Linked DNA regions of Homo sapiens. The protein of the gene in region 3 interacts with the protein of the main gene of each other region in a biochemical or structural test. Each region holds a gene or a part of one and is shown on either strand. Other genes may lie near its edges.

Region 1 (7,103 bases), on a different chromosome or scaffold from region 3:
GGGAATTGCTTGATCCCAGGAAGCAGAGGTTGCAGTGAGCCCAGATGGTACCACTGCACTCCAGCCTGGGTAACAGAGCAAGACTCCGTTTAAAAAAAAAAAAAAAAAAAAAAGACCTGATGGATCGATCTCCTGTCCCTAGAAGATCCTGGTGCTCTGAGCCCTGCCTGACTTGCTGCTCTCATTTCACCAAAACATAGACCTAACTGCACAACTACTCAACTTCTGGTGCTCTATGCACATGGATGGGCCTTCTTTTGGTTCCTTGCTCATTGCAACCAGAGGAACTTTGCATGCGCAGTTTCTACCAACTGGAGCCCTGTTCACCTAGGTAATTTCCATGGATGTTTCAGATCACAGCAGCAGCATCACATCCACCATTCCTGGCCTCCTTGACAAAAATCAAGTCATTTTAACATATGCTTTCATCACAGCAGCTGTGTTGGAGTAGCTGTCTTAGTTGCATGTTTACATTTCACATGTGTGGCTAGTTGACTAATGATTCTCTTCCCAATGAATATAAATTCCAGGAGGGCAAGGTCCATGTCTGTCTTTGGTCCTTGCTGTCTCTCCAGTGCCTGGCCAACAGAGACGCACTCAAATGTTTGCTGGTAAGTCACTTAGTAAAAGGAAGAACACAATAAAACCTCAAGCAGTCTGGTTCCAACAACTAAGCTGAATTGCCTATTATGGTGCCTAATGGTTAGGAAGGGCACAATAAATGCTTACAGAATAAATGACAGCTGCCATCTATCAACTCTCCACCCCTTCCCCTACAAAACACACTACATACTGAACAAATGATTCTCTATGGATCAGAAGTCTAGACAGACACAGGTCTCAGAACGCAACAGCCATGAAAGCAGCATAGCTGACAGAAGAAGCAATAAGAATCAAGCAGGAAAAAAAAAAAAAAAACCCTTAAGGCTCCTAAGGCGGTAGCCCCTATGCCCCTGCTCAGGTTTATAGGGGAAAATGGCACCAAGTCTGGCCTGCCACATACCTGATGTTTTCGTTCAGGGCATAGAGCTCGTTGCTTTGCAAGCCACCCCCTTTGAAAACGTTGATCACAGCAGTCTGAACGCTACAGGAAAAGAGAATAACCCCTGGTTAGAGAATCTCCCTTCTTGGGCCATTTCAATAGCAGCTCAGGGCTGAAGGTGTGTGGAGTGACCAGGAAGCTCATAGCACAAACCTGGCCACACTCTCCATCCATCCTCCATTTCCTCAGTGTCCTTGGAGAGAAAGGAAGACCAAAGGCGAAAGGACTCAAAAGCAGCCCCCGCTTTCTTGCAAGCCAGCAGGTCTTCCTCCCTCACCTCGCTGGCGGCCCTGCTGGTGCAGCCACAGTCAAAGGCAGCCAGTGGGATCTGATCGCAGGAAACTGCATGGACCTGGGAGATTCCAAATGGCATTTCCTGCAAGCAGAAGCTGACCCATGCCTGCGGTTCTTTCACAGCCACTGTCTTCACAGGGAAGCTTGGTGGCCTTGAGCTAACATGAACCGGTAAGTCCTTTCCTTTTTAACAGCACTTTCCTTGGAAGAATTTCTCGCAGGCCAGCCTTACAGGCTCCTCACATGTCCACTCGTGTGAGGTGTACCGGCAGTAGAGTTAGTCCCTTGAGAGGCCATATCAGGGCTTACTCCACAGCCTCTGGGACGACAGCCCAGTGTTTCAGCAAAGGAGCTGCTTACAATCTTGTCTATATTAAGGCCCCTGGCCTTTCCTTTAAAGAACAGGGATCCATTTAACACCAAAACATTTTGGAGCCCCCTCTCTCCATCCCTATCATCAGAGTCCTGCTTTCTGTGTCCATTCATTTAAAATATCCATAATGGGCTGGGCACAGTGGCTCACGCCTGTAATCCCAGCACTTTGGGAGGCAGAGGCAGGTGGATCACTTGAGGTCAGGAGTTCGAGACCAGTCTGGCCAACATGGTGAAATCCCGTCTCTACTAAAAATACAAAATCAGTCAGGTGTGGTGGCACGCACTTGTAAACCCAGCTACTTAGGAGGCTGAGGCAGGAGAATCGCTTGAACCTGGGAGGCAGAGATTGCAGTTAGCCAAGATTGCACCACTGCACTCCAGCCTGGGTAACAGAGCAAGATTGTCTCAAGAAAAGAAAAAAGAGAAAAGATCCATAACGATCCAAACTACAAAGAATTCAGTCATGCTTCAAAATAATGATGCATTTAATTACTCCAAACAGTGTCTGCAAAGATTTGAAAAACAGTAGCCCACAAGCATATAAGACATAGTGCTGATTCAGTCTGCTCAATTCTTGGTGCACAAAAGGTTGGCTAGACACCTAACAAAACTCTGTGCCTCCTCTTCCAAGCACCTGTGGCTCACAGGTCTTCATAATCTTGGGTTTATGCCAATCATTTAATTTTTCACAGACATGTTTTATCTTCCCAAGTGGGAAGTAGGTTACTTAAGGTTTCTTATAGAAGCCCACTCTCGGATAGGCTGACAGTTTCAGGTGTGACTAATGAGCATGAATAGTGACCGTAAATTCCAGTGCAACTGTCCCAGTCTGGTAAACTGACTCTAACAGGCCAGAGGCCCTCAGTGGTCTATTTTCTGGCTACTGAAACAAAGAAAGCTAACAGACACGCTGGATATTAAAAAAAACTTGCTCTCTTGGCCAGGTGCAGTAGCTCACACCCATAATCCCAGCGCTTTGGAAGGCCGAGGTGGGAGTGATCCCTTGAGGCCAGGAGTTCAAGGCCAGCCTGGGCAGTATAGTGAGACCCCATCTCTTTAAAAAAAAATTGCTTTTTTAATTAGCTGGGTGTGGTGGCATGTGCCTGTAGTCCCAGCTACTCGGGAGGCTGGGGCAGGAGGATCGCCCGAGCCCAGAAGTTTGAGGCTGCAGTGAACTATAATTGCACGACTGCACTCCAGCCTGGGTGACAGAGTGAGACCCTGTCTCTTAAAAAAGGAAAAAAAGAAAATTTGCTCTCGTCATTATTTACCCCCATAATCACGGCCTTCCCAGAATCAGCAGAAGCTCAGTCAGCCCCCGGATGCCTCCCTCCCTGCCATGGCCCTTGGCAGCCCTCCACCCCACATCCTGCAGCCTCCTTCACCTGTTCCAGGCTGAGCTGGAGCTCAGCTGCAGAGCCTGCCGAGCTGCTTGGAATCGGGGAAGGTCGCTGAGCACGGGGGAGCTCATGAAGCGCGGTCTAGGCCTGCGGAAGGAGCCCATCTTGTGGAACTCGACGGGCAGAATGGGAGCGAAGCCGCGGGTCATAAGTCCTGGTGACAGTTCAGCTTCACCTCTAGGACCAGAAGGTTCCGAATGCCCTCGGAAAGGGCTTCTCCAGGGGCTGCCTTCAGGCCCTCAGGCTTTCTTAAAACCACAAACGTAGCCAACACCTGAAAAGAGAGGGAAGCTTTTATTGAGAACTCCTGGCCTGAGAACACCTCTTAGAGGAAGTTGGCTGGGACTTTCCAGCCTAACTACCCCGAAAACAACTGCGGGACCCAGCAATAGCATCTATTCCCTGGCAGGTTCCCATTCACAAGTTTGCACAGGGCTCTTTTCGGTTGTAACAGTGTGGTCACCCTCAAGTGGGAAGACAGTGACAATGGGGCCAGCCTAAGGCCAGTCCTGCAGAAAAATGATTTCTAAGCTGTGCTAGACTCTGGTTCCAATATGCAGCCATCAGTTTGAGCACTGCCTGGGTTCCTGTGGCCCACGATGTTGTGCAGTAAGAGATGGATTTTTAAAAAATGTCTCAAGGAGGACACAAGAGCTCCTCATCCTGGCATTGATGACCATCCATGATATGCCCTTACCAAGCCAGTCTGCATATATTGCTCAGTTTTTCTCAAAGTATCAGTGACTCTTCACTCAAGCACATCTCACCTTCCCTTACCTGCTGTTCCTTCACTCATTTCATCAGGACACACTCACTGAGTGTTTGCTATTTATTAACCACTGTGAGTTGCAGAACATCCAAAGATTTCTAAGACCAAATCCCTGCTCTCAGGGTACTCAGCCTATGGAGAAGATAACAGTCTTTTCAAGTATTCACTCATGCAATAAATATTTATTGAGCAGCTACTATGCATAGCCACTCAGGCACTGGGAGATATAAGATGGCTCCAGAGGCCCTGGTGCCCTGCCCCGTGGAGCTCGCAACCAGCAGGCACTCTTCTATGTCATGCACAGTCCTTCCCCCACACTTTTGCTCGTACCAACTACTCCTCTTGCCCAGAATTCTCTTCCTTTTTCCCTCTGCTTATTTAAACCCAACTCGCCCTGCAGGGTTGGGTTCAAGGACACTGTCCCCTTGTAGCAGTTGCTGGGAGACTTCATGGCTTCGCGGTTAAAGGCAGTGGCTTCAGGTTTGAGTCTTAACTTGGCCACTCCCAAGTTGTGTGACTTTGAACACACTGAGTCTGAAGTCCTCAGCTGTTACTAATGCCCACTTTCCAGGACTGGAGAGATGAAATGAGATCATGTGACATGGCTGGCAGAATGGCGGAGCCATGGGCCTCAAGGACTGGCTATTTCCATTCAGATGAATTTCTTTCTTTCCTTTACACCTTTGGACCTGTAATTTCAGTCTCTTATTCTTTAGTGACTCTAAAGTCTAAATGAATGACTTAAAAGGCGAGAATTAGAGTTCAGCAGAGTGAAGGACAAAAGGAAACACCACGAATCTCATAGTCACTTTTTACTTGACGGTTTAGTAGGTTTAGCCCAGAAGTGTTTTCACTGCCATCTCTCTCACCAGCTAACTCTGCTATGTCCCAAAAACTAATGATGCAAGAAAAAGATATTCTAGCCTTAAGTCAACCTTCAGGTTGCCAGGGGAGAAGATTTTTGCAGCTCCAGCTGGTTAGCACTTGAAGAAGGAGGAACCGAAGTCTCACCTCCAAATCAAACATGCTGTTGTGGTCAGAAGAGTGAGTTAAGCCACTCAGATGGGCATGGAGGCAAGCCATCGAGAGGGCACGGGAGGTGTTAGCAGCTATCTGCAGGCAACAGGCATAGCAACAAGGAACTTGTAATACGAAGAGGCAGAAAAGAAATGGCTTGTCCTGTCTCTTAACTTTTTTCTTTTAAGGAAAGCAGACTTATGTCCTGTTTTCCTGTACAGTCTTTGCCCCTTCACCCCCTGCTCAGAATGAGTTCAACAGTTTTGTTAAACTTTATTAACAAAAGAAGCATAACAGGCTGTCAAGTTTCAGAAGGCCTCAGCAGCTTCATAAATGCCACTGCAACGTGGAAAGATCTACACAAACCAAAAAATGAGGTGATGAAGAAATAAAGCCACAGAAGGTCCTTCCATATCCTTAAATTGGCTAGCTTTGGGATTTAACTCACCCAGTAAAGGTCACACTACTAAGACAGGATCCATTTCGCTGCCATTCTTCAAATGGACCTGCTAAATGCAATTCACCTGTGTAATTACAGGATATTAACTCCCTTTATGAGGATCTTAAACGAGTTAATGGAGCTGCCTCTCATTCCATGGCACTGGTACAGGGAAGTAGAAAAGTGAGCAGAATGGATCGTTCCAGGTGTTTACCCACCATCTTCCTGCCGAAACATCCACTTCTCCAGGAAACTGTAAGACACTGAGGACCGCAGGCTGGCTCCTGTCCCCGTCCACTTCTCAGTTAGTGTTCCCAGGCTGCCTAGTCCAGCAAAGCGCCTGGGCAGCCACAACCACGCACTCAGCCTCTCTTAAATAAGGGTCATTTTCAGCCTACGACTATGGCTCCCGCGGACTCAGATAAACTGCACAGTCACACACAACGAGTTGCCACTGACTCATTTTTCTCCTCCCGAATCCGCCACTCTCAATCCTGACAGCTGAAGAGAATGTGAAGCTGTCTTTGTCTCCACTGTTCCTACTGCCGGGCAGAGCCAAGAGACCTCCCCAGAGCAGCACAGGGAGGAAGGAGGAGGCCGTTGGGAGCATTGACAAGAGTGGCCTAAAGGGAAACGCTGATACACCCTGGGTTCACCTGCTACAGCGCTGGCCCGGCAGGCGCGGGCCTGTCCTGACCTATATCTGACAAGTCAGAAAATGACAGAACAGATGGGGCCTCGGAGTGGGGCCAGTCCAGGTCCCATTGACAGATGACAAAGGTATAGCAAAGAAGCAAAGAAACACATCCAAGGTGCTCGAGGCAGGAAGAGAGCCAGGACTGTGAGAGCTATTCCCCGACACCTGTTTGAGCATGTTCCCCAGCTCCCACCTAGGCCATTCTGCAAATTCCTTGAAGACAGGCATCGGGCTTTATTCACCTCTATATCCTCAAGACTAAGCTCACTGCTTAGCCTGGAATCCCAGCACTTTGGGAGGCCGAGGTGGGTGGATCACCTGAGGTCAGGAGTTCGAGACCAGCCTGACCAACATGGAGAAACCCCATCTCTACTAAAAATACAAAATGAGCCGGGCATGGGGGCGCATGCCTTTAATCCCGGCGACTCGGGGGGCTGAGGCAGGAGAATCGCTTGAACCTGAGAGGCAGAGGTTGCGGTGATCCGAGATCGTGCCATTGCACTATAGCCTGGGCAACAAGAGCGAAACTCGTCTCAAAAAAAAACAAAAAAAGAAAGAAAAGAAAGAAAAAGATGAAGGAAAAGAATTAAGAAGGCATTGGCTAGGCCAGGCACAGTCACTCACGTCTGTAATCCCGGCCAAGGCAGGCGGATCACCTGAGGTCAGGAGTTCGAGATCAGCCTGGTCAATATGGCAAAACCCTGTCTCTATTAAAAGTACAAAAATTAGCCGGGCATGGTGGTGCGTGCCTGTAGTCTCAGCTGCTCAGGAGGCTGAGGCAGGAGAATCGCTTGAATCCGAGAGGTGGAGGTTGCAGTGAGCCAAGATGGCACCACTGCACTCCAGCCTGGGCAACAAAGCAAGGCTTCTCTCTCAAAAAAAAAAAAAAAAAAAAAAAAAAAAAAGGCATCGGCTGCCTGGCTGACATGAAGCCAAGCATTGTCACAATACATAAACTTACTCAACCCTCACAAAATACCAGTTGAGCTGGGCACAGTGGCTCATGCCTGTAGTCCCAGCACTTTGGGAGGCCAAGATGGGTAGATCTCGAGGGCAGGAGTTCGAAATCA
Region 2 (8,066 bases), on a different chromosome or scaffold from region 3:
GGGCATCAGGGACACTGAAGGGCTCTGGGGGAGTGACTGTCAGGAGGATTCTCTCCCTGGAACCCCTTTTCTCCTCTTCCCCAGCGTGGCCCCAGGGACTCTCTTATGGAAGAGGTGCTTCCCGCTGGTCTAGACACAGCCCTGCCTTCTCATCAGCTCTAACTGCACAGCTCGGCTGCCCAGGGCCATCTAGGTGGCTGGGAGTCCTGGCACTCTCTGCTCTGCTGCTTTTGAAGGAGGACAGGTGTCTCACCTGTCCAGTCTAACCTGCCAGGCTTGTCCATGTGCTCAGGGTTGATTGAAACTCTTCCTCTTTCAGTCCAAGCTGGAGGCAGGGCAGGATGGGAGGAAGGAGCAGCCTTCCTGTTCTGCCGCACCCTGGCTGCGGGAGGTATTTACAAACACTCCTGGAACTCAGTGACCCTGCGCGGGTTCAGCCGGCCAGCATAGCCTGGCCTTTGGGAGTGGGGAGGAGCGGCCACGGTGGAGTCTTCCCAGGGCCAGTGGGGAGCCAGGGGCCTGCAGGGTGCCTGCCTTGTCACTGCCCTTGTTGTTGTCCCTGTGCATCCCCCAGCCTGGATTCTGGGTCTGGAAAATTGGGAGAAGACAGAGGGTGACTCCTGGGCAGAGTCATGGGAACAACGTGCTCTGGGCTGGTGGAGGGGAAAAAACAGCCACCAAACAGCTGGAGGCAGCAAGGCACACCTGGTGCTGGGGCTCCGGCCTCTTCCTTCTCTGAAAAATTTCCAGTTCCTGCCTTGGGAAGCCCCCACTCCTTTGAGCTAACCCCTGCCAGTGGTCAGTGTCTGATGAGAGTGGTCTGGATTTCTCCTGGGTGGTGAGGCAGCTGTGCCTGCCTCCAAACTACCACATCTGCTTTCACCAAAGTCTATTTGTGTCTCACAGAAACTCAAACACATGAGGTCACAGGTACTTCCCCACCCTCTTTGTCCTCTAATCCTTTCCATGGGTGGAAGATATGCTTTGTTTCATACTCAGCTGGGGAGGCTGTCCAGCTAGGTTTTATGCCTTGTTTTCTTTATTGGGGGAGCAGCACTAAAAATGTGAGTGTTGGAGAGGAGGGGGAACTAGAGCTGAAAAACTTCCTCCCAGGCTGAGTTGTTTGTTTGTTTGTTTGTTTTTAAAGACAGGGTCCCACTCTGTTGCTGAGGCTGGAGTGCAGTGGTGCAATCATAGCTCACTGCAGCCTCGAACTCCTGGGCTCCAGCAATCCTCCCACCTCAGCCTCCCTAGTAGCTGGGACTACAGGTGGACGCCACCACACTCAGCTAATTTTTGAAGTTTGTTTTATAGAGACAGAATCTCAGTATGTTGCCCAGGCTGGTCTTGAACTCCTGGGCTCAAGTGATCCTCTAGCCTTGGCCTCTCGAAGTGTTGGGATTACAGGTGTGAGACGCTGTGCCCCACCTCCCCAGGTCAGTTTTGAACTGAAATCTATGACTTTGTCCAGCTGGCGTGTAGTAGAACATTGGACAGGTAGGATAATCAAGAGGAAAGTGTATACCCTCTTATTTAATTCAGTACCAACTTAGAAGAGACTCCAAGATGGGGAAGAGGTAGGCAGATTGGGGCAGAAGGCAGACAATCCCCAGGTGAAAATGAATGAAGGCATCTAGCTGTGACCTGCCTGCCAAGCTGTTGGCTGCTGGACTCCTTCTTCTCATACCTCCCTTGCAATTTGAGAACAGCCTAAGCAGGTCACTGCTCAAAGTTCTCTGAAGGCTGGCTCCCCTGGTCTCAGCCTGGTGTTCTCTGAAGGCTGGCTCCTTAGCCTGGTGTTCATGGTCTGAGCGCAGCCTGTCTTATTTCTGTCTTATTTCTACCACTCATTCTCAGTGGCCTCCTAAAGCATCCTACATTCCAGCCACAATGGGGTATGTGAAACCTGGAAACGCCACGACTCTCTGGTCCCCATATCTTTGCGTAGGCTGTTCTCCTCTTCTCTCCTGAAATGCTCTTCTCATATGTCTCCTCCTGTTTCTGTCAAATCTGATATATCCTTCAGGGCCCAGCTGAGCCCCTCCTACTTCACAAAAATCCACCAACTTACAGAAATCGCTCTCTCCTCAAAACACCCAAAGCATCACAGTAATCAGGACTTCCTTTAGATGATGCTGGAGTGCCTTGGAACTGAGTCTCATTCAGCTTTGTGCACTTGGTAGCACCCGGCACATGCCTGGCACAAAGTAAATGCTCAACAAATCGTAACAGGGTCTCGGTCTATTGCCCAGGCTGGAGTGCAGTGACATAATCATAGCTCACTGTAGCTTCAAACTCCTGGGCTCCAGTAATCCACTCACCTTAGCCTCCTGAGTAGCTGGGACTATAGGTGCGCACTACCATGCCTGGCTAATTATTGGTTTTATTTTTTATCTTTTTGTAGTAACGAGATCTTGCTGTGTTGCCCAGGCTGGTCTTGAAGTCCTGGCTTCAAGTGATCCTCCCACCTCAGCCTCCCAAAGCACTGGGGTTACAGGTATGAGTCACTGCATCTGGCCTCAAGAAGCCTTTATGGAAATTAACTGAGTCATAATGTTGAATGAGTATAATGGATCATCCAGAAGGGAAAATGGCACCAAAACAACACAGTTCTGTTAGGCTTTCTTGCCCCTTCTATGCCTGCTGGCTTCTTTCCCCCACTCCTCCCATCATCGTTACATATTTCCAACATGGCCAGGTGCAGTGGCTCACACCTGTAATCCCAGCACCTTGGGAGGCCGAGGTGGGCAGATCACTTGAGGTCAGGAGTTCAAGACCAGCCTGGCCAACATGGTGAAACCCCATTTCTACTAAAAATACAAAAATTAGCGGGCATGGTGTCGTACATCTGTAATCCTAGCTACTTGGGAGGCTGAGGTACAAGAATCGCTTGAACTTGGGAGGCAGAGGTTGCAGTGAGCTAAGATTGCGCCATTGCACTCCAGCCTGGGAGACAGAGCAAGACTCTGTCTCCAAAAAGAAAAAAAAAAAAGAAAAAAAATATTTCCAACATACTAAACAGGCCTTTCTCACACTGCAGCTGCCCTCAGTTGCAAACCTGAGGCATACCTCTGTCTTCTAATTTCCTACGTGGTAAAAGGAAACACTTGGTCCTCATGGTTGGCCAACTTAACCTGCAAACTCTTGAGTTCAGTAGCACTTCCCGGGTACCTACTGTGCACCCAGGTTTGTGCTGGAGGCTGTGAAGGAGACAAGTTGAATAAGTCACTACCTGGTCCCTGCCCTCAGCAGGGCATAGGAAGTCAAACCTTGGAGAAATATGAGTGAACCCTTGCAGTGGGAGGTTGGCAAAGACAGTCAAGGGTACAACGTAAAGGCCTGGAAGTAAAAAGTGTCTGGGCTACAGGTTTGTTTGTTCGGGAGATAGAGGAGAATGAGGTAGGGTGGGGTCAAAATGGAGTACCTTGAAATCTCTGTTCAGTCCGAAGGTAACGCGGTTGCTGGTGAGGCAGCCAGCAGGTTAGTGAAGCAATGTGCAGTGTGAACCAGAGGGAGGAGAGCCTGGAGATTGGAGGGACACGAGTAGCCATCCAAGATTGGGGTTCTGTGGATCTGGAAGAATCAAGAGATGCACTGAACAGCTGTTTGGGAGTCAGGACACTGGGATCCCAGTCCCAGCTCTGCAGAGGGACCTTGGACATGTCACTCCTCTCTTCTGAGTCTTTCCTTAACTGTAAAACTTTAAAACCTTCCAAGTGACCTTTCCAATCTGATGACTCGTTAAACAGTTGAGCCTTTGAACTAGGACCTGTGAAATGAAGGGAAGCAGCCGATCTATTAGGCATTTGGAACAAGAAAGGGACTGCCTGGGAGCCCAGGGATAGAGGCAGGGAGAGACTAAAGAGGGCCTGGCAAGGGAGAAATGGGGAACTGCGGGCTGGGGGCCTGCCACTGTCCCGATGTTTGATTTGGCAATCCCATTTTCAGTTCCTCCTTTCTTCCCTTTTTCTAACTCAGCCTCGCCTTATCTGGTGGGGGGAGGGCAAAATAGGACACTCCCACATTGAACTCATGCTCCCCAGGATACCTTCCCCTTTTCCGGCCCTCACAAGGTCCTCACCTTCCTCTGCAGCTGCCTTCCTCCAGAGCAAGGCTTTCCAGCGGGAGAAGTAGAAAGCACAGTGAATTGGGTGGGCATCTTCCTTAGCACCCTCATAGTTACCAACTTTATTTTTTTGAGACAGGGTCTTGCTCTGTTGCCCAGGCTGGGAGTGCAGTGGCACGATCTCGGCTCACTGCACCTCGACCTCCTGGGCTCCAGAGATCCTCCAGACTCAGCCTCCCAAGTAGCGGGGACCACAGGCGCTTGCCACCACTCCTATCTAATTATTTTTAATTTTTTTTGTAGAGACGGGGATCTGGCTATGTTGCCCAGGCTGGTCTCGAACTCCTGGGCTCAGGAGATCCTCCTGTCTCAGCCTCCCAACGTGCTGGTCATGGTTATTTACTGAGAACTCACCATGAGCCAGGCACTGGGCCAAGAACTGTAATGCATTATTATTATTATTTTTTACAGCAATCCTAGGAGGTGATTGTCAGGTGAAGAAATTGAGACTTGATGTTAGGTAATCCGCGCAAGGCCACGACTGGCGATGTGACCCTGGAAATGAGGTCTGACTTCCAAGTCAGTGCTTCGGCCAGCTCCTTCCCGCCGTGCGACCTTTGGCAGCTGGGGACCCCATCCGTCACCTACCACCTCTCAGATTAGATTCTCGATGCGCCCGCCCCTGCGCACGTGATCCCCTGCCTGCCTGGCCGCGCCAGCCCCGCCTCCGGCGCCCGGGTGCCCGGAGCTGCCCGCGCTGCTGAGGCCGGCGGGGCGGGGCGGGGCGGGGCGGGGCGCGGCGCAGCAGGTGGAGCAGGCGGCTCGGGCAGGGGCGTGGCCTTGGCCATGAGGGGCGTGGCCTGGCGGGGGTGTGGCCGGAAGCCTTAAAGTGGCCTGGTCGCCGGGGCGGGCCGTGGAGGCCGCCAGTCGCGGCGATCTTCTCCTCGCTTCTGGAGTGTTATCGTCACCATGTCCCTAATGGTCTCGGCTGGCCGGGGCCTGGGGGCCGTGTGGTCCCCAACCCACGTGCAGGTGACGGTGCTGCAGGCGCGGGGCCTGCGGGCCAAGGGCCCCGGGGGCACGAGCGACGCGTACGCGGTGATCCAGGTGGGCAAGGAGAAGTACGCCACCTCCGTGTCGGAGCGCAGCCTGGGCGCGCCCGTGTGGCGCGAGGAGGCCACCTTCGAGCTGCCATCGCTGCTGTCCTCCGGACCCGCGGCCGCCGCCACCCTGCAGCTCACCGTGCTGCACCGCGCGCTGCTCGGCCTCGACAAGTTCCTGGGCCGCGCCGAGGTGGACCTGCGGGATCTGCACCGCGACCAGGGCCGCAGGAAGACGCAGTGAGTGCGGGCGGGGAGGGGAGGGCCCGGCCTGGGGGCGCGGACCCCTCCGGCAGGGCGGTCTGGGCGCTGGACCCTTCGAGAGTAAGCCGGGCAGCAGCGGGGAAGGCCTTTCGGGACGGAGCCCTCGGCCGGTGCTGGTGTTCTCACCTGGCTTCCCCTTCTGCGGCTGTCCCGCCCAGCTCTGCCAGCTTTGGGTCTTCTTGGAAGAAGGGGCCGTATCTGGGGCGCTTTTTTTTTTTTTTTTTTTAGACAGAGTCTCTGTCGCCCGGGCTGGAGTGCAATGGCAATGGCACGATCTCAGCTCACTGCAAACTTCGCCTCGCAGGTTCACGTGATTCTCCTGCCTCAGCCTCCCGAGTAGCTGGGATTACAGGCGCGCACCACCACGCCCGGCTAATTTTTTTTTTTTTTTTTTTGAGACTGAGTCTCACTCTGTCGCCAGGCTGCAGTGCAGTGGCACGATCTCGGCTCACTGCAACCTCCGCCTCCTGGGTTCAAGCGATTCTCCTGCCTGAGCCTCCCGAGTAGCTGGGACTACAGGCGTGCGCCACCACGCCCGGCTAATTTTTGTATTTTTAGTAGAGACGGGGTTTCATCAGATTGGCCAGGATGGTCTTGAACTATTGACCTCGTGATCCACCCACCTCGGCCTCCCAAAGTGCTGGGATTACACGCGTGAGCCACCGCGCCCGGCCCGCCCGGCTAATTTTTGTATTTTTAGTAGAGACGGGGTTTCACCGTGTTGGCCAGGCTGGTCTCGAATTTCTGACTTCAGGTGATCCGCCCACCTCGGCCTCCCAAAGTATTGGGATTACAGGCGTGAGCCACCGCGCCGGGCCTGGGGCGCTTTTGAATCTGCAGGACGCCCCTCAGCGTCTGGCACACAGTAAGCACTAAGTGAATTTTAGATGAATTCCAACTATACGTGGGCAGGTGCCTTCTTCTTACTAGGGTGGTAGCCCGTGTCTGATACTCGCCTTCGCTTGGGTGGAAGGCCTCCTGGGTATTTCACTGAATAGAAGAACACTTCGAGCCGAGAATGACTGGGCCAGGGCGCAGGGCAGAGGAACAGGAGGCATGAAACCAGCTGACACCCCCACCCTAAAGGCTAACCCCGGGCGCAACGCCTTTACAATGCGGGGTGGGTGGAGGTTGGGGGAGGGGAATGGCGTTTGCCGGCTGTCACATGACTTGCTAACCCCTTCCCCTACCTCATACTTGCCTAGGGGGTTGGTGAAGAGAATTTGCCCCTACAGAAAGAATGTTACAACAGTGTGGTGTGTGCCCTGGGCCCCATGTTAGTAAAGATTTCTCCAGGTTGGAAGGAGCCCGGGTGGGCCCTTGACGGAGCAGAACTGGGCATTGTTTCCTTTTGGAGTTGGTAGAGTTCTTCTCTCTGGTCCTAATCCTGGTGGATGTCTGCTCGCCTGTAGCTCCCAAAGATTGTGTCAGGTTATTTCACTTCTGCAGTAAAAACTGGGCAAAAACCATTCACTCCATGATATTACCGAATTATTTGTTTCACAGGTGTTCGGAAAGGGCAGTGCTTCACCCAAAGGAACGTTCGATTATGTTCATCTAGTATGCCAAAGCTAGCCTCGATTAGCTTAGCTGGTTACTTTGTTAGATCTTAAATACACAGGCCAGTCAGTTAGCACCGAAAGCCTATAGTCTAGGAATCACACTGATTTGCTTTGTGTGTTTTAGATATACATAGCCTTTTAACTTTCCCTTCTGTGGGAGACAGGAAAAGCCAGAGGGTTTGTCCTCTGGAGGCTCCCTTTACTGTGGGGTGGGTTCCATTTCAGCATGTAGGCTTGCAAATGGAATATTTGATGATGCAAACTTACCTGGCCAGAGATGAATAGGCATTTCTGAACTCACATCAGATAAAACTAGCCTTGATGTGAGGATGGATGGGGTATCTCACAGCATCAATTTACAAGCCATAAGGTGAGCAGTGTTTTTGCTAAGGAGGGGCTGCAGCAATGCTGATCTTCCATCTGATTAAATGACACTGGGGGTGGTGGGTTGGCTTCCCTTCAGCTTCAAATGGGTGCTGTTGGCCATCCGTTGTCTTGCGCCATCCCAACATGTGTGTATTCACTTCCTTCTCTGCCACCTGTTTCTTATGTGGACATTTTATCCCCTTGAGAGGTAGATCACATCTCCCTGCCAGAGATGGAGATTCCAGAGTCCTGGGTCCAGTGCCCACAGCAGCCCTGACTCATTGTTGGGCTTCTCTGTCCCTAAACACCCAAGTTTCTCTATTTGTAAATAGAGCATGTTGCCAGACTTAATTGATGTTTGTAAGATGTTTCTGGGTTCCTGGATTAATGGGGCCAATGTATCCAAGAAGTGATTGAAAAGGTTGGCAACTGCTTTGTGAGAGATTGAAACCTTGAGCTCTCTTTTTTTCAGGAAGAGTTCAGTCTCTGCATCTTCATTTTTCTTATTTTATCCAATGTAACCCTAAACCTATACAATAACTCCCACCTATTATGTGAACCGATTACCACCTAGTCACAGTATTGACTTCCAGGAAAATGGTGCTTAGTTGATTTTTTTTTCTTTCTTAAAATAACTGCAAAGGAAGGCTTCTTTGCATCTCTATGGGTAGATGAAATTTCCACTTTCCATCTACAACTTTCTGGGAC
Region 3 (7,103 bases):
TGAAGATAATTGTACCTACTTTGCAGGAGGATCACTGGGACAATGAAATGCCCTACTGTATGCAAAGTACTTAATACAATACCAGGCATTATGGGAAACAATAATCTTTTTTGTAACTATATTCTCCCCCACAAACCATTCTATCTTATAAATCCATGCTCACCAAGCAAGCTTGATATTATTAAATTTGATTGCCAGATCTCTTGATATTGAAAAGCAATTATCCTAACAAATTCCAGAATCCCGTTAACGGAAAAGGAATCCTTCATTCTAAAATAATAAATTGGCATTCCATTCTGAGCTCAATCACTCAAGTCTGAATACAATCCTGTCTTCAAGACTAATTATTTCCAGGTTCTCCACAAAATACATTTTGTGACCCAAGACTAGACTGACGACACAGTGACCAAAATCCTGAGGGGTCATCCTGAGAAGCTAGATTGGCACCACCCTGGCCAGCCCTACCTAATGCCACCCTCGCTCTACAAGCTAACTTGTATAATACTTTCCCATACTTCTCCACCTTCCACCCCTGTCATACCCTTCAATCAAGCACTATAGTGAAGCACTTTACCTTCCTCTCTAACCGTGTAGAGGTCAAATACACCATCTTATCCATTTTTGCATTTTCCTCCATATCCCAATATAACTTGCATCAAAAGAACCACAATAAATATTTACTGTAAAACACAATTTTGCTTAACAACACAAGCCATTGCATTCCACCATTCCCACAAGCTGAGGCCTCTTTCTGATTTATTTTTCCCACATCAGATGGGTAATGCACTGACTTTGTAGTAACAAGGCTTGATGGAGGCACATCTCATACATGTGCATGAAAATCCAATCATTACACTTATGAACAACAAAATAATCCCCTTTCTAATTTACTGAACTCTTACTCTATCTTTTATCTTCCCCTCCCTCCCCCACCTCTCCATTCCTAAACTGCCAGATTACTATAGAAAAATCAGAAGACTTTATTTAACTGGGTTGCTAACAAATTCATACAGCTGGGGTAAGCCATCACTGGGCTCTAAAAACCTTTCATTCCTCTCTAGCTGATGTCCTGATAGGGCTTTCCAAAGAGCAGTGTCATGCAAGGTTTAGGAGCATGGGGCCTGGGTCAGACAGAACTCATAGTCTTCTTTCTGTGTGACCTGTTAAGGTGATTAATTCCCTAAGCGTCATTTTTCTCATCTGTAAAATGAAGTACCTAAAAGAGGTCATTCACACAAATCCTTAACACTAACACAGTGACAGGCTTAGAGTAGGTGCTTAGTAAACACCGATCCAACAGCTTTTTTTTTTTTTTTGAGATTGAGTCTTGCTTTGTTGCCCAGGCTGGAGTGCAGTGGCGCGATTTTGGCTCACTGCAAGCTCCACCTCCCGGGTTCACGCCATTCTCCTGCCTCAGCCTCCTGAGTAGCTGGGACTACGGGTGCCCACCAGCACGCCTGGCCAATTTTTTTGTATTTTTAGTAGACACGGGGTTTCACCGTGTTAGCCAAGATGGTCTCGATCTCCTGACCTCGTGATCCACTTGCCTCGGCCTCCCAAAGTGCTGGGATTACAGGCGTGAGCCACAGCGCCCGGCCAATGGTCACCAATGATCTTCTGATGGATAAATGTGTGATTCTTTCCTATGTCCTCAACCTTCATGACTCCCTGAAGCCCCATGCACCCAAAACCTACCCAAATTCTTCATTATGAAGCTGTCTTCAGAGGGTTACCAAGAACTATGGACAGAAATATAACTTTAATTAAGCATTAGGCCAGGTGCGATGGCTCACCTGTAATCCCAGCACTTTGGGAGGCCAAGGTGGGCGGATCACCTGAGGTCAGGAGTTTGAGACCAGCCTGGCCAAAACGGTGAAAACCCATCTCTACTAAAAATACAAAATTAGCCAGGTGTGGTGGCACACACCTGTAGTCTAGCTACTCAGGAGGCTGAGGCAGGAGAATCACTTGAACCCAGGAGGCAGAGGTTGCAGTGAGCCGAGATCATGCCATTGCACTCCAGCCTGGGCCACAAGAGCAAAACTCCATCTCAAAAAAAAACAAACAAACAAACAAACAAAAAAAAAACATTAATCAGGCTGGATTTTGACACATTTCCTTGTAACTGAAAGTCACACAGCGCTAGATACTGACCATTTGCATCCCTATTGTTTCTAAAGATAGTATCTCTGACATTAGAAGCATAAGGCTTTTTTTTTAAGAATTGCTTGAGATATTTTTCAGATCCCAAATTCTGGTAAAACAGCTGATGCCAACCAGTTTGAAGACCCTCAGAGAGAAATAAAATCAGCATAATACAGTTTTTTCATCTCCGGGTCCCATTACTTCACCTTTCTCTCTCTGACCACCCAACAATCTCCACATTCCAGCCCACTCCAAAATCCTTAAAAACCCTAGCTCCAAACTCCTCAGGAGGACGGATTTGCAGTTCCCTCTCATCTCCTCATTCTGCAGCCCAACAAATAAACCCCGCCCCCAGGTCTTGGGTATTGACTTGCCACACATCAGACAGCACACTTACTCTGGATACACTTGAATTCCCCTTACAGACTCCTTCTCCCACACTGGCTCCCACTGCAAGCGTGGTAGCCTGACTTACCTTTGACATCAATGACCACTCTTGCTCCCTTATTTTCCTTCCCTGGTTCCTTCTTTTGCCCCCTACATAGGCCCTAGGGTTCTGTACTCCATACTCTTCCTTCTTCCTTTCCTTCTCTAGTGAATTTTACTTCTACTTTTTTTTTTTTTTTTTTTTGAGACAAAGTTTTGCTCTGTTGCCCAGGCTGGAATGCAGTGGCATGATCTCGGCTCACCACAACCTCCGCCTCCTGGGTTCAAATGATTCTCCTGCCTCAGCCTTCTGAGTAGCTGGGATTACAGGCATGCACCACCACGCCCGGCTAATTTTGTATTTTTAGTAGAGACGGGATTTCTCCATGTTGGTCAGGCTGGTCTCAAACTCCTGACCTCAGGTGATCTGCCCACTTCAGCCTCCCAAAGTGCTGGGATTACAGGCGTGAGCCACCATGCCCAGCCTGGTTCTACTTTTTAAATGCATCCTGCAACTATCCCGTTCTATGTCCACTGCCATATCCTGCCCTATCTGCGATGATCCTTCTCAAGAAGGGAGACAAACACTTCCTTACTGGTCCCTTCTTTGTGACTCTCTATTCTCTACAGAGTAGCCAGGGTAACCTTTTATTTAGAAAAAGAATCTTTGCTTGTCACTTTCTGTTTTAAGCCTTCAATGGTGTCCCACCACCCTTTTTTTTTTTCTTTTTCTTTTTTTTTGAGACAGAGTTTTCACTTTTGTTACCCAGGCTGGAGTACAGTGGTGCAACCTCGGCTCACTGCAACATCCACCTCCCGGGTTCCAACAATTCTCCTGCCTCAGCCTCCCGAGTAGCACGGATTACAGGCATAAGCCACCATGCCTGGCTAAAATTTTTTATATTTTTAGTAGAGATGGGGTTTCACCACGTTGACCAGGCTGGTCTCAAACTCCTGACCTCAGGTGATCCACCTGCCTCAGCCTCCCAAAGTGCTAGGATTACAGGTGTGAGCCACCATGCCCAGCCCCACCACACTTTTGAGTGAAGGCTAGACTCACTATCTAGCCCACAAAGTCCCCATGTGATGTGGGCTCTGCTTGCCTTTTCCACTTTACCTCATGCAGCTCTCCCACTTCACTCACCTTGCTCTGTCCTTCGGTCACCTTCCTTCAATTCCTCAAAAATTATAAATTATTTATTGCCCCAGGGCCTACAAACTTGGGTTCCTTTTCTGGCTGAAACATTCTCCCTAGCTCTTTTCACAAGACTGGCTCCTTCTCAGACTGCAGTTCACCTTCCCTATAACATAGCTGTCTGGCACACAGTAGGAGCTTACCAGGTATTTGTGAAAGGAACAGATTTCACATTCTCCAGTCAGGTAACTCCCAAAAGTGAATATCTGGAATCAATCTCACCCTTCAGATCAGTGCTTCATTTCTAAATGCCTGCTAAATTTCCATACCTCAAACTTAGCATACTAGATATAAAACCAACTCTTCCATTTTCCCAAACCAGTTTCTCCAGTTTTCTGAAATTACATGAGCAATATGATCCAGTTTCCACTTCAGAACAATAAATTTCCCATTCATTTGCTCTACCTGTCCAAAATTCCAATCACCTTTAAAGCTAAATTCAAATATCACTTCATTCAATCATGCATTCAATCAACCACTTATTCATTCAACAAGTACTTACTGAGTGCCTTTTATGAGGCAGACACTATGTTAGATACTCGAAAGCAAAGCAGATGTATTTTTGTCTATTATACATCAAACAATCATATAAATATTGAATTATGAACTAAAAAAAAAGTAATGAAGGAAAAATGCCAGAAAACATGAGAAAAAAATGAGAGGCATCAAGAAACACTGTTCTGATGATGGGCTGATTTAATGAAATATAATTTACACTAGGCAGACTGGAAAGAAGAGCATGCTAGATAGGATTCAATCAAGTCCTAGAAGCAGGAGAGATGAGATCTATCTCAATGTACATATCATCTTGCCTTACATATTATATCTATCTATCCCCCCCCACCATACTCATTTTACTGATAGTTACCTGAAAGAAAGGACATAGAGTGTCTCTTATGTGCCAACACAACACCCCCAGGAGACACTGAGTCACTGGTCTGGTACCTAGGAGCTTATGCTTGTAAAAAGCTCCCAGATGACTCTATATGCAGCCAAATTTGTAAATCATATGCCCAAACTACCCATTTAATAAACATATATTGATTATTCTTTCATGAAAAATCTCTAAGGTCAGTGTGGTAAATTGTATCTAAAATTGGTGGTAGGCCAGGTGCGGTGGCTCACGCCTGTAATCCCAGCACTTTGGGAGGCCAAGGCGGGCAGATCATAAGGTCAGGAGTTCAAGACCAGCCTGACCAACATGGTGAAACCCCGTATCTACTAAAAATACAAAAATTAGCCAGGCGTGGTGGCAAGCAACTGTAATCCCAGCTACTCAGGAGGCTGAGGCAAGAGAATCACTTGAACCCGGGAGGCAAAGGTTGCAGTGAGCCGAGATTGCGCCACTGCACTCCAGCCTGGGTGACAGAGCGAGACTCTGTTTCAAAAAATAAAGTTGGTAGTAATAATCCCAATCACATTGCATGCCCTTTTGCAATGTGATTTTTACCCTCTATCCTTTAGAGGTGAAGTCAATGTCCCCTCCTCTTGTATCTGGGCTATAATTGTGACTTACTCTGACAAAAAGAATGGGGCAAAAGTGATGATGTATGACTGCCAGGCCTAGGTCTTATGAGATCCTGCAGCTTCCATTATGGCCCAGCCACCATGTAAAAGAAGCTCGAGCTAGAATTTTTTTTTTTTTTTTTTTTTGAGACGGTCTCGCTCTGTCACCCAGGTTGGAGTGCAATGGCACAATCTTGGCTCACTGCAACCTCCGCCTCCCATGTTCAAGCAATTCTCCTGCCTCGGCCTCCCAAGTAGGTGGGATTACAGGTGCCCACCACCATACCCAGCTAATTTTTGTATTTTTAGTAGAGACGGGGTTTCACCATGTTGGTCAGGCTGGTCTGGAACTCCCGACCTCAGGTGATCCACTCACCTCGGCCTCCCAAAGTGCTGAGATTACAGGCATGAGCCACTGCGCTCGGCCACTCGATATAGGTTTATAAGTGATGAGAGACCAAGAAAGAGAACTCACAGAGAACCAAGATATCCCAGCCAACAGCTAGCTCCAAAGGTACAGACATGTGCAGCCTTCTTGGATCCTCCAGCTCAATCAGCATCATATGGGACAAAAAAAAATATGTCCTCCTTTCCTGAATTACTAACCCACAAAATCATAGGCAATAAAATGGTTGTCATGTTATGCCACCAAAAGTCTTCGGGTAATTTGTCACACAATAGACAACTGAAACAGTCAGAAATTCAACACTCTCTTGGGCAGTCATTCAAACATTTCCCCACTTTGATGATCAAAAAATTCTTTCTCGTATTCATCAAAATTGCTCCTCCTTCAATTTAAGACCATTTCCTCTTAAATCTTTGAAGTTCATGAAGAATAATTAATAAAAATCCCCCTGGCAAAACTATTCTTGTATTTGAAGATGATAATGAAGTTATCTCTTAGCTTTTCTTTCTCTAGGCTAAAATCTTTCCCCCCTTTTTAAAACTTATAATGATAAGACCTGTTTTTCAACCTTTTAATCATTTTAATTATCCTCTCAAGTATGAGAGACCCAAAATTGAACACCATATGCCAATATCTAACAGAGATTATTTCCTAGCTCTAATGGTTCAGCTTTTTATAATGGAATTTCTCATAGTCCCAAATATGGCATTTTAGCACTCCAAAAGTTGTGAAGTGATCTAAAAAGTTAATTACTTACTATAACTGTAAAAGGTTTTCTGCCCTTAACACTCAGCTTACTCCATTTTGGGATGACCGCTTTCACTCACCAGCCTGGTTTGATACTCCACCAGGGCAGCAGGTTTTCACAACTTCCAGATATTTGAAGTATAAAAGAAAAACCTGAGAGGTTGGAGTACGCACACCATTAATTTCAATCAAGGTCTCTAACCACAACCAGGGCCTTCCCATAGGTCAGGCAGGTTCAGAGTACCTCCTCCTCCTACCTTGATGATAAAGTGGCCTTGTAAAAGGCAAGACCGTTAGCACTTGCCTATCGAGCAAAGGCACCATTTCTGTGGAACCTGATAGAGTATATTTAACTACTATATTAAGAGACAAACCAGCTGCTTAATGCAGTGTAAGAACCATGTTTTCTCTCTGAGTCTTACCTAAATGTATATATGCTTTGGTATCAGACTAGCTTTATAATCACTGGTAAAATAGGGATAATAAATAAAGCCTACCCAACGCAAATAAAACCATATGAGGGAAATAATTTTGTAAAACACCATAAAAATGTCGTGATATTGCGGGACTAGATCTCAGCAAACCCTTTAAATCTTCAAATTAACTTTGAATGATTACTTGATGGTGGCAGGTAACACATACAAAATAAGCAGCCATGGGCTCATGTTCATCAAATAG

The links.
Region 1: of the proteins of RFFL (region 3) and PRR5L, one has a biochemical effect on the other in vitro, tested with the Homo sapiens proteins (one study listed by BioGRID).
Region 2: of the proteins of RFFL (region 3) and RAB11FIP1, one has a biochemical effect on the other in vitro, tested with the Homo sapiens proteins (one study listed by BioGRID).

Annotation. Positions count from the first base shown.
Region 1 is NC_000011.10:36,397,279-36,404,381, reverse strand, and holds part of PRR5L (proline-rich protein 5-like), read right to left. Parts: intron 3,386-7,103; 5' UTR 3,261-3,385; coding exon 3,097-3,260; intron 1,085-3,096; coding exon 1,004-1,084; intron 1-1,003. UniProt on the Homo sapiens protein: Associates with the mTORC2 complex that regulates cellular processes including survival and organization of the cytoskeleton.
Region 2 is NC_000008.11:37,896,411-37,904,476, reverse strand, and holds the start of RAB11FIP1 (rab11 family-interacting protein 1), read left to right. Parts: upstream 1-4,979; 5' UTR 4,980-5,035; coding exon 5,036-5,406; intron 5,407-8,066. UniProt on the Homo sapiens protein: A Rab11 effector protein involved in the endosomal recycling process. Also involved in controlling membrane trafficking along the phagocytic pathway and in phagocytosis. Interaction with RAB14 may function in the process of neurite formation.
Region 3 is NC_000017.11:35,053,620-35,060,722, forward strand, and holds part of RFFL (E3 ubiquitin-protein ligase rififylin), read right to left. Parts: intron 876-7,103; exon of another isoform or gene 769-875; intron 1-768.